Homo sapiens: one gene and its partner. The protein of the gene in region 2 interacts with the protein of the main gene of each other region in a pairwise test. Each region holds a gene or a part of one and is shown on either strand. Other genes may lie near its edges.

Region 1 (5,759 bases), on a different chromosome or scaffold from region 2:
AAATCTGGTATCAGTACAAAGCTTGACATCATAAAGAAATTGAGATTTGGAGTTAAAAGCCAAGGTTTAACTAAAAAGGTGTGATGTTACAAGTTAACATTAGGAGAATCTAGGTGAAGGGAATATGAGAACTCCATCTCTGCAACATTTCTGTAAGTCAAATATTATTCCAAAATTAAAGCATTACTAAAAATAAAAGTTCAGGGTTTCAGCCTTGGCTCTGATGCTTGGATTTTCTAAGCCTTGGAGTCCTCATCTGTAAAATGCGATAATGATAACGCTCATTTCCCTGTGTGGCTGTTGTGAGGACCAACTATGGTTAAGTAAGCGGACACACACTGCAGACACTGAAACACACAGCCAATGCTGGTCACTTTCCAAGGGAGAGTCACGTAGGTGTCAGAGAGAAGCAGTAAGGTAGAAAAGGTGTTTATAGTGTAGACCCTGGTCACAGGGAACACCAAAGACCCAATTGTTATAAACCATCAGTAGAACTCTGTTATCCTTTGTAGTTAAACACAGATACCAAATCTTTCAGGCATGTTGGCTGTGGCAGTGCCATTTATTATATTATTAGAAGGGTTTAGCAGCCATCTCAAAAAAATAAATAAATTATAAATAAGAGGGACACAGCTAGTAAGAGTAAGAAAGAGGTAAAATGAACAAAAGAGAAAACAGTAGCTTCAAACACCCAACTTTCCTTTAAGGAAGTCCCTGGGCCTTAAGTCAGGATTTGTTTCAAACACATTTCATGGAGAAAGGAAGAAAGAGGCATTTTCTAGTCTCAACCTGCCCCACACAACTTGGGTGGTGATCTGGAAAACTTGCTCATAGCCAAGCCCTAGACCAGCTCAGCCACTGTGTGGATCTTCTGATGGCGAATGAGGTTGCAGTGTCGATTAAAGCTTTTCCCACATTCAATGCACTGGTGAGGTCGCTCCCCTGTGTGGCTTCTCTGATGTTCAATGAGAAATGAACGCCGACTGTAGCTCTTACTGCACTGGCTGCACTGATACGGCTTTTCTCCTTTGTGGATTCTCTGATGCTGGATAAGACCCGCACTCTGACTGAAGACCTTCCCACACTCCTTGCAGTGGTACCGTTTCTGTATATTGTGGATTCCTCGGTGATTAAAAAGACCAGAACTTCGACTGAAGGCTTTCCCACATTCATTACATTCATAAGGTCTTTCTCCAGTATGAATTCTTTGATGTCGAATGAGACCTGAGCTCTGAGTAAAGCTCTTCCCACATTCATCACATTTGTGTTGCCCCTCTCCTAAGAGGTTTCCCCACTGCCTCTCTATCCTATCCTTATGTTCACCAACTTCTCCATGTGAGGGATCCTGCTGTGATACCTCCCAGGTCTGCTCATTAAACATTTTCCCATGTGGTTCCACTATCTTAGGACAGTCTTTCCTTAGCACCAACTCTCTGTCCTCAGTCTTGGTTACTTCATCTGAAACAAAGAAAAAGGCTAGGTAAATGTCACTTGTTCCCTGAGCCTATGGGAAGGTGACTATGTCTATAAAAATATATCATAGAAAAGGAAGTGGGCTAGAAACAGAAGGGCTAGTGTGGTAACACTTTCCCCTACGTAGGGAGGAACGTTTGCCCTCTTTGGCATAATGCAGGTCAGTCCATCCCCATGTAGACTTGGCCTGAGTCGTTGTTTTTTGTTTTGTTTTTTGAGCCAGAGTGTCACTCTGTAGCCCAGGCTGGAGTGCAATGGTGTGATCTCAGCTCACTGCAGCCTCCATTTCCCAGGTTCAAGCGATTCTCCTGCCTCAGTCTCCCAAGTAGTTGAAACTACAGGCACGCACCCCCACGCCCAACTAATTTTGTATTTTTAGTACAGACGCGGTTTCGCCATGTTGGCCATCCTGGTCTTGAACTCCTGACCTCAGGTGATCCACCCACCTCGGCCTCCCAAAATGCTGCGATTACAGGTGTGAGCCACTGCACCCAGCTGGCAGTACCTTTTTTATACTTCATAGGGAGGGATGGTTAAAGATTAGGGTGGCTTCTCTGGAGTATTCCCTTACACCTCTCTCTCCTTTCTGAGATAACCTCAAAGTGACCCTTTCCAAGGAAAGTTACTTCATGTATTCATTCATTCATTTTCAGAACAAGTATTAAACTTCTACTACTTAGGTGCTTCAGGCAGTCCAGTAGTCCCCACTTATCTGTGGTTTTGCCTTTACAAAGTTTCAGCTACCCACAGTCAATCACAGTTCAAATATACTACATGGAAGATTCCAGAGGCAAACAATTTTTTTTTTTTTTTTTTGAGACGGAGTCTCACTCTGTTGCCCCTTGGCTCACTGTAATCTCCGCTTCCCGGATTCAAGCGATTCTCCTGCCTCAGCCTCCCGAGTAGCTGGGACTACAGGCACACATCACCATGCCTGGCTAATTTTTTGTTTGTTTGTATTTTTAGTAGAGATGAGATTTCGTCATGCTGGCCAGGCTGGTCTCAAACTCCTGGCCTCATGATCCATCCGCCTTGGCCTCCCAAAGTGCTGGGATTACAGGCGTGAGCCACCACGCCCAGCACAAACAATTCTTAAGTTTTAAATTTGGCACCATTCTGAGTAGTATGATGAAATCTCATGCCATCTGGCTCTGTCTCACCCAGGACATGAGTCTTCCTTTTGTCCAGCATATCCACACTGTACATGCTGCCTGCCTGTTGCACACATAGTAGCCATCTTGGTTATGAGATTGACTGTTGCAGTGTCTCAGTGCTTGTGTTTACATACCCCTTATTTTACTTAATAATGGCCCCAAAGTGCAAAAGTAGTGAGGCTGGCATATTATTATAATTGTAATTGTTCCATTTTATTATTAGTTATTGTTGTTAATCTCTTACTATGCCTAATTTATAAATTAAACTTTATCTTAGGTATGTATAGGAAAAAAATAGTATATACAGGGTTCAGTATTACCCTTGGTTTCAGGCATCTACTGGGGGTCTTGGAATGTATCCCCCTTGAATAGTGAGGACTACTATACTTTATGAATTTCAAATCCACAATTATCCAAGGTGCATTCCCATCATAAGACCTTTGCTCTAGTGCTTCTCTCTTCCTGGAAACTTCTCACCTCAAATGAAAGCAAGGCCCACTCTCTCGCTTCCTTTAAGTCTTTGTTCAACTCACCTTCTCAATGAGGTCTATCTTAATTCTTCTATTTAATATCACAATCTGTTTGCCTCATCCGTAGCACTCTTAATCTCCCTTATCCTGTTCTATTTTTGCCTTATTCCATAGCCTCATCACCTTTTAACACACTGTATCATTTCTTTACTTTTATATTTATTATTATCTCCCTCTTGCTACAATCTAATCTCTACGAGAGGAGGAACCTTCTGTTTTATTCCTGAGAAACATGCCTGGCACATAGTCTGATTTCACTTTGCAACCCAGAAAAAGGCCGAGGACAACAGACCCAGGCCTCCTCTTTTGACCAAAATATTTGCCTCTTTCTCCCATATCTAACTGTCCTGTCTCTCACATACAAGAATAGGTACCTCTTAGGACTCCTCTGTTGTTAGGCCATGTTTCTCCTCCTCCTTTTAGCTGGGGGATCACAACAGGTTTGGAAAATAAAAATGTGTCTGTAGAGAACAGATGGGCCCCAAGTGGGATCAGTACTGCCCTTCTCCTCAAACTTCGTATTAAATCTGAAATCCATAAGGGAGCTGGGTAGAATATAAAAATTCAGACATTTCCCACCTTTTAATGATTACCATTTATACAACTTTCATGACTTATGAAGCACTTTCAGATATATTATCAAACTGACTCACCACAAAACTCGATGTTATTATCCCATCTCTTTAAAGAACTATAGAAAAATATGGGCCAGGCGCTGTGACTCACGCCTGTAATCCCAGCACTTCGGGAGGCCGAGGCGGGCGAATCACGAGGTCAGGAGATCGAGACCATCCTGGCTAACACAGTGAAACCCTGTCTCTATTAAAAATACAAAACATTAGCCGGGCATGGTGGCGGGTGCCTGTAGTCCCAGCTACTTGGGAGGCTCAGACAGAAGAATGGCATGAACCCGGGAGGCGGAGCTTGCAGTGAGCCGAGATCGTGCCACTGCATTCCAGCCTGGGCGACAGAGCGAGACTCTGTCTCAAAAAAAAAAAAAAAGAAAAATATGGGAAGATACATATATATGGGTAGGCAGACTATATAGAGAAACGTCTGCAAAATATGCAGCAAAGTGACAAGAGTAGCTACCTCTAGGGAGTAGGATTTGGAAAACTTCCATTTTTTACTATATAAACTTTTGTATTATTTGGATTTTTAAATAATCAGCATAACTTAAAAAGAAACTCAAGCTTACCTATTAAATATTGCTTGGCTAAGAATTTGAAAAGCTGGAACTTGAATTTGGTCCTTGTAATTTCAAACACTATGTTGTTTTATAATATTGGCTTTATCTAAATTTGTAACACATACCTGCGCTGATATCCTACAAGGAGAACACTCCAGTCTCCAGATGCCCTCTGGATATTCTCCTACAGCCATAGTAGATGCTTAATAAACACTTGTTGAATGATAGATGGATAGATAAGTGGATAGGTGGAAAATATAGATGTGCTTCTTGGAAAAGGGGATACTCAGCAGGGTTCTAGATGCAGTTTGGAAGGTAGAAGAAAGGAAGTGGCTAGAAAATAAAAGGTCCAAGTTCATAGAGAGAGGAAGAAGAAAGAAACAAATTGACTGGAAAGATGCTCATAAAGAGGGAAAATGATATCAGAAGCAATTTTAATCTGATAAAGTCACAGAAGCTATAAGAAGGTCTGCACAGAATTTACTCAACACATACACTTTAATTTAAATCAAGAGATGAGTTCCATGTAATAGAAATCCATAATTGCTAGGGTAAATGAAATAAACAGAACCTAGGGACAAAGAGGCAAGGGAAGTTGCAGCTTTGATGCATATAGGGGTAATATGAAACTGAAAACAGTAGAACCTTGCTACAGATTGATTGTCAGAACATTAACAAAAAGTCAGTAAGAGGGCATGATTTTATGTGTGGGAAATCAGACAAGCTAGAGCCAATTCCTGCAGGGAGGGCTAGAATGGGAAAGCAGCTGACTCAGTCCCAAGTGCTCAGTACTATATCCACAAGGGTGGTCACTGCCACCACTCAGAAGATTACAGAGAAGGAAATGGCAAAGTCTGATTTCACTGGATTCTCCCATACAGTTCTGCCACTTACTAAGCATATCTGATATCTTTCTACTCCAAGTATGAACCCAAATCAGCAAGGGTGGCACTGGTGATTTGTGACAATAGTGACCATGTATTAAGCATAATGCATGCCAAGTGCTTTTCATAAATTGTATTTGATACTCACAATGACTTTCTGAGGTACATACTGGTTACGGACTAAATTGTATTCCCTCACATATGCTGAGGTCCTAACCCCTCAATATGATTATATTTGGAGATAGGGCCTTGAGGAAGGTATTAAAAGTTAAATGAGGTTATAAGGAAGGGCCCTATCGGGTAGGAATGGTATCTGTCCTTATAAGATGAGAGAGCTTGCTCTCTCTCTGTATGCATACAGAAGAAAGGCCATGTGAGGATACAGCAAGAAGATGGCCATCTATAAGCCAGGAAGAGGCCTCACCAGAAACCAAACCTGATGGTATCTTGATCTTGGACTACTAGCCTTTGAAAATGTGAGAAAATAAATTTCTGTTAAAGACAACCAGTCTGTGGTATTCTCTTAAGG
Region 2 (6,748 bases):
TGGAAGCATCCCCTCTGAAAACCGGCACAAGACAAGGATGCCCCCTCTCACCACTCCTACTCAACATAGTATTGGAAGTTCTGGCCAGGGCAATCAGGCAAGAGAAAGAAATAAAGAGTATTCCCTTAGGAAAAGAGGAAGTCAAATTGTCCCTGTTTGCAGATGACATGATTGTATATTTAGAAAACCCCATTGTCTCGGCCCAAAATCTCCTTAAGCTGATAAACAACTTCAGCATAGTCTCAGGTTACAAAATCAATTTGCAACAATCACAAGCATTTCTATACACCAACAACAGACAAACAGAGAGCCAAATTATGAGTGAACTCCCATTCACAATTGCTACAAAGAGAATAAAATACCTAGAAATCCAACTTACAAGGGAAGTGAAGGACCTCTTCAAGGAGAACTGTAAACCACTGCTCAATGAAATAAAAGAGGATACAAACAAATGGAAGAACATTCCATGCTCATGGGTAGGAAGAATCAATATCGTGAAAATGGCCATACTGCCCAAGGTAATTTATAGATTCAGTGCCATCCCCATCAAGCTACCAATGACTTTCTTCACAGAATTGGAAAAAACTACTTTAAAGTTCATATGGAACCAAAAAAGACCCCACATTGCCAAGACAATCCTAAGCAAAAAGAACAAAGCTGGAGGCATCATGCTACCTGACTTTATAGTACAAGGCTACAGTAACCAAAACAGCATGGTACTGGTACCAAAACAGAGATACAGTCCAGTGGAACAGAACAGAGCCCTCAGAAATAATACCACAAATCTACAACCATCTGATCTTTGACAAACCTGACAAAAACAAGTAATGGGGAAAGCATTCCCTATTTAATATATGGTGCTGGGAAAACTGGCTAGCCATATGTAGAAAGCTGAAACTGGATCCCTTCATTACACCTTATACAAAAATTAATTCAAGATGGGTGAAAGACTTAAATGTTAGACCTGAAACCATAAAAATCCTAGAAGAAAACCTAGGCATTACCATTCAGGACATAGGCATGGGCAAGGACTTCATGACTAAAACATCAAAAGCAATGGCAACAAAAGCCAAAATAGACAAATGGATCTAATTAAACTAAAGATCTTATGCACAGCAAAACAAACTACCATCAGAGTGAACAGGCAACCTACAGAATGGGAGAAAATTTTTACTATCTACCCATCTGACAAAGGGCTAATATCAAGAATCTACAAAGAACTTAAACAAATTTTCAACAAAACAAACAACCCCATCAAAAAGTGGGCAAGGGATATGAACAGACACTTCTCAAAAGAAGACATTTATGCAGCCAACAGACACATGAAAAAATGCTCATCATCACTGGTTATCAGAGAAATGCAAATCAAAACCACAATGAGATACCATCTCACACCAGTTAGAATGGCAATCATTAAAAAGTCAGGAAACAACAGATGCTGGAGAGGATGTGGAGAAATAAGAAAGCTTTTACACTGCTGGTGGGAGTGTAAATTAGTTCAACCATTGTGGAAGACAGTGTGGCAATTCCTCAAGGATCTAGAACTAGAAATACCATTTGACCCAGTGATCCCATTACTGGGTGTATACCCAAAGGATTATAAATCATTCTACTATAAAGACACATGCACACATATGTTTATTGTGGCACTGTTCACAATAGCAAGGACTTGGAACCAACCCAACTGTCTATCAATGATAGACTGGGTTAAGAAAATGTGACACATATACACCATGGAATACTATACAGCCATAAAAAAGGATGATTTCATGTCGTTTGTAGGGACATGGATGAAGCTAGAAACCAACATTCTGAGCAAACTATCACAAGGACAGAAAACCAAACACTGTATGTTCTCCCTCATAGGTGGGAATTGAACAATGAGAACACTTGGACACAGGGAGGGGAACATCACACCCTGGGGCCTGTCGTGGGGTGGAGGGTAGGGGGAGGGATAGCATTAGGAGAAATACCCAATGTAAATGACGAGTTAATGGGTGCAGCAAATCAACATGGCACATGTATACCTATGTAACAAAGTTGCACGTTGTGCACATGTACCCTAGAACTTAAAGTATAATAATAATAGAAAAAGAAAATTAAATAAGTTGGAAATACAGTACGCCCAGCCAACAGGCAGACACTTGAAGAGATTATGGTAAATCCATTGCAAGGAATAACATTCAGCCACTAGAATGAAAGAATTAGAGGTATAAATTGAGGAGATTTCATTATTAATTAGGAAAAAGGTTTGCCTGGAAATTCAATATGGAATGGTTTGATTTTTATAAATGAAACAAAGTGGAAAGCCATGTGTTCTATCTAAACATATACATGCCAACACATCAGCAACCCTACTCGTTGATGTTGATCCTAGAGAAATGCATGCACATGTTCATAGGGAACATGCGCACAAATATTAATAAGAGTATTATTTTGTTTTGGAAAAATGGGAACTGCATAGGCGTGGATCATTAGGAACAGGATAAATTGAAAATGATGAAATGTACAAAATTAAAATAAATGAACTAGAGTTCCATGTATTTACATGGGTAAACATAAAAAATATAAAGTTGAGCTGGAAAACCAAAGTGTTGATCAATGTATACATTATGAAGACGTGCTTTAAATAAAGGAAGAGATTCTATATTGTGTACAGACACAGAAGTAGGTAGCAAATATATACAAGTCTCCATGGGCATAATTGCTGACTTCATTATAGAGGAGCACAGTGGGGAAGGAGAGAGCAGAGTGGGTCAGGGAAGACGTAATAGGAGGGTTTTGCCATATCCAATATATAAAAGATAAACAGTAAGTAGGGCCTAATATTTAAATTTTATACAGCTAGCTATTGGTGTTTATAATATTAATCTCTCTTCTTTGCCCTACGTTTGAGATTAAGTCGCAGTAAAAAAAAATTCATGCTAAAAACAAGCAAATAAACTGCAAAAGTAATCCTCCCATTTTTGTTTCATGAGGGTAGGATTGTACATGCTATAGACTTCCATGCAAGACCCAAATTCCTGGAAACAGTAAAATAAGTTCATACCTGTACTGAAAAACAATTCAGAGCAATTATCAATGGACCAGAAACTGCGAGAATTCTCAGAATGTGGGACAGCAGATGGAGCCAGACTACTGTTTTGAGTAGGTCATGTCCCAGAACGCGTGCAAAGGTTATCCCAAACGGAGGGCTGGCTCAAGAGTGCTCTGTGTCCTGGAGAGGTGCTTTCTTTGCTTGACCAAATTGATTTATTGCTAACTTACCCAACAGGAGGTCTCGGTGGGCTCTAATTATAAAGAAAATTTCAGCAAGACAGGCATAAAGTATTCATTTGTTTCTTAAGAGTTCAGTTAAGAACACCTATAAAATCTTTTCCATCATGAATTCCTTCAGCACGCATTTATTAAATGCCACACTCACACACCGCTTGGAAAACCTTGAGAGGCAAAATCTGTGCTTACCATGTAATAAATGCTTTTCATTTTTTATCTCATTTAATTCTCACAACCCTATGAGGGCTGTACTTTAGCCCCACTTTATAGATGGGAAAACAGGCTTAGAGAGAAGTGACTTGCTTAAACTAATACCTTGAATGACATAAGAAAGATATAGAGTGCTAGTTATAGGGCTTTCCTCAATGGAGTAAAAATGGACTCATTACCCTTTTGGGCAGATCAAGACAAGCTTCAGGGAGAAACAGGTCTGTGAGCAGTCAAATGGAATTTAGATAGTTGGAGAAGGCTGAGAAGACAGGTCAGGCAGAGCAAACAGTGAGCAAAAGCAAGCAGTGGATAAAGTTCAGAGTATGCTCTGAAAGAAGCAAAATAAATCAGGAGTCCAGGAAGACTGGAGCCTAGAAACCTTGGAGCCAATCTGAACTCCATCATCCCCTCCACATTCCCCACTTCATCCATTCTGTCTGCAAAGCCCTTCAACGGTCACCTTTAAAATGTCTTTCTGCCTCTCCATCCCCATGGCAACAGCCTTAAGGCATACTTTAGTTCCCAGTGCTTCTTATTCCAATTGCTTCCTATGTGGTCTGCCAGGAAACAGTTTGCTTTTCTGAGAGGCTGCACAAATGCAATTCCTCTGATCCTGTCACTGCCCTGCTTTCATACATACATACATACATATATGTGTGGTAGATATATGCACTGTATATAAACATAATGTGGTAGATATATGCACGATATAGGTATGTATGTATGTATGTATAAAAGCAGGGCAGTATATATATCGTGCATATATCTACCACATTTTAAAGGCTCTGCACCTCTTTCACCCTGCTTGTTTCTGCAGTCCCATCTCCTCACATCATCCAGCACATCTGCCATAACAATATTATCCGGGTCCTACATGGGACCACAAATTGATTAGTATACACACAAATGCCTTCTGAAAACAGGGCGAGTGAATGAACGCGCTGTGTAAGCCAAGACAGGAAAGGAAGGCTGGAGACAGCTGACTCCTTCCAAGAATACACCCTCCCGCCACCCCTGGCCTCCCAACCCCCAACACACACACAGCCCGTCGTCAGTGGGAATGGAGCCGACGCACTCCTTCCCTAGACCGTCGAGCCAATCTTGGAATGTTTGTAGTAGGCTGAAAATACAGAAACTTTAAGCTATTTTTTTCTCTTCTGCAAACTCCAGGCCCCTCCAATCTCTAGCTGTCATTTCTGCCCTTGTCCCACCCCTGTCGCTGCCTGCCCCTTTTCCTATCTGCTAGCGGAAGTCCCTGTGGAGGACCAGCCTACTTCCTCTTTGGTGCTAGGAGTGTGCGTGGCAGGAGAGGCGGGGCCAATTTTGCTGAGCTTTCTCGCGGGCTTGCAGCTGCGGCAAGTGCTGGCGGCGGCTGCTCGCGCAAGTCAGCTGGCGTGGGAACTACCCTTTGTAGCTGAGAACGGCTTGTTTATTGCTACAAAGACTCTATTGACATTGGTAGCTTCAGCGGCAGCAGCTTCTTACGGTATAAAGCTGTTGCTTCCTGAAGAGGCTACAAGCATCCTTCCCTAGGACTGCTGTAAGCTTTGAGCCTCTAGCAGGAGACATGCCTCGGGGACGAAAGAGTCGGCGCCGCCGTAATGCGAGAGCCGCAGAAGAGAACCGCAACAATCGCAAAATCCAGGCCTCAGAGGCCTCCGAGACCCCTATGGCCGCCTCTGTGGTAGCGAGCACCCCCGAAGACGACCTGAGCGGCCCCGAGGAAGACCCGAGCACTCCAGAGGAGGCCTCTACCACCCCTGAAGAAGCCTCGAGCACTGCCCAAGCACAAAAGCCTTCAGTGCCCCGGAGCAATTTTCAGGGCACCAAGAAAAGTCTCCTGATGTCTATATTAGCGCTCATCTTCATCATGGGCAACAGCGCCAAGGAAGCTCTGGTCTGGAAAGTGCTGGGGAAGTTAGGAATGCAGCCTGGACGTCAGCACAGCATCTTTGGAGATCCGAAGAAGATCGTCACAGAAGAGTTTGTGCGCAGAGGGTACCTGATTTATAAACCGGTGCCCCGTAGCAGTCCGGTGGAGTATGAGTTCTTCTGGGGGCCCCGAGCACACGTGGAATCGAGCAAACTGAAAGTCATGCATTTTGTGGCAAGGGTTCGTAACCGATGCTCTAAAGACTGGCCTTGTAATTATGACTGGGATTCGGACGATGATGCAGAGGTTGAGGCTATCCTCAATTCAGGTGCTAGGGGTTATTCCGCCCCTTAAGTAGATCTGAGGCAGACCCTTGGGGGTGTAAAAGAGAGTCACAGGTACCCCAAGGAGTAGATGCCAGGGTCCTAAGTTGAAAATGATGTCGATTGGGGGCGGGGGACACTGTATTTGATATTTGTGATCAGTGATCATTGTTCAACTGCGAAATAGAGTGTTTGCTTTTGATAATGGAAAATTGTATTCGTTTTAAAATTCCGTTTGTTGAGAATAACAATATGTTTAAAAATATAATTGAACAAATTTTTTTCTTTGTTTCCTGTCATTGACATTTAGTATAACAGTTTTGCTAACGTTCTAAAATGAAGTCGTTCCATCATAATCTATGATCTTGTACAGCACTTATAGAAATAAGCTGTTCTTTTGAAGTTGAAATACCCAGTAAAATGTTGAAGAAGGATGGAGGATTTCTTCATATCTGACGTTTCTGAAACCCTTTGTGTCTGCTGTTGTGTGAAGATTGACATTTACCATGATTTTCCTTAGTTACTGCAGAACATAGAGAAAAATAAAAGCCTAACGAATAGTACATCTTGCGCATTTTCTGACCACCTGTTATGTGAGGCACCAGTCTAGATTCTAGGGATACTCCCTAGTACACATCCTCCAGGTCCAAAGAATGTTCTAGATTATGTGGGAAAGAAAAATAGGTAAACTGGCAGTGCAGTAAATGCTGGGATAGAGAACGAGCCTGAAGTGCCATGAAAATGTAAAAAACCTTATGTGACCTGTCTTGGGGAGTGGGCCGGGGAAGGGAGCACCATAGGATGTGTGAAAATTCAAGAGACACTTAAATAAGTTTGGGGGGGACTGAAATATACGATCAGAATATATGATGAAAATATTATGTATTAGATATTTGATTGGATACTCCACCCAGCATAGGGGAGGGAGCACTGGCAAAAAGAAGAGGACATCACAGGGTGCCTGCCACGGAAGTAGAAAATACACAAAAATCATCTTGAGAGGAGGAGGGCAGAGAGAAGGGGTGGTTGCAGGGGAAAAGGTTGTCATGGGGTACTTCAGAAATAA

What was found.
Region 1: the proteins of MAGEH1 (region 2) and ZSCAN9 interact in binary tests that used the Homo sapiens proteins (3 or more experiments, as listed by UniProt).

What each region holds. Positions count from the first base shown.
Region 1 is NC_000006.12:28,228,261-28,234,019, reverse strand, and holds the end of ZSCAN9 (zinc finger and SCAN domain-containing protein 9), read right to left. Parts: exon of another isoform or gene 4,764-5,759; intron 3,703-4,763; coding exon of another isoform or gene 3,532-3,702; intron 1,459-3,531; coding exon 842-1,458; 3' UTR 533-841; downstream 1-532. UniProt on the Homo sapiens protein: May be involved in transcriptional regulation.
Region 2 is NC_000023.11:55,447,322-55,454,069, forward strand, and holds MAGEH1 (melanoma-associated antigen H1), read left to right. Parts: upstream 1-4,805; 5' UTR 4,806-5,053; coding exon 5,054-5,713; 3' UTR 5,714-6,245; downstream 6,246-6,748.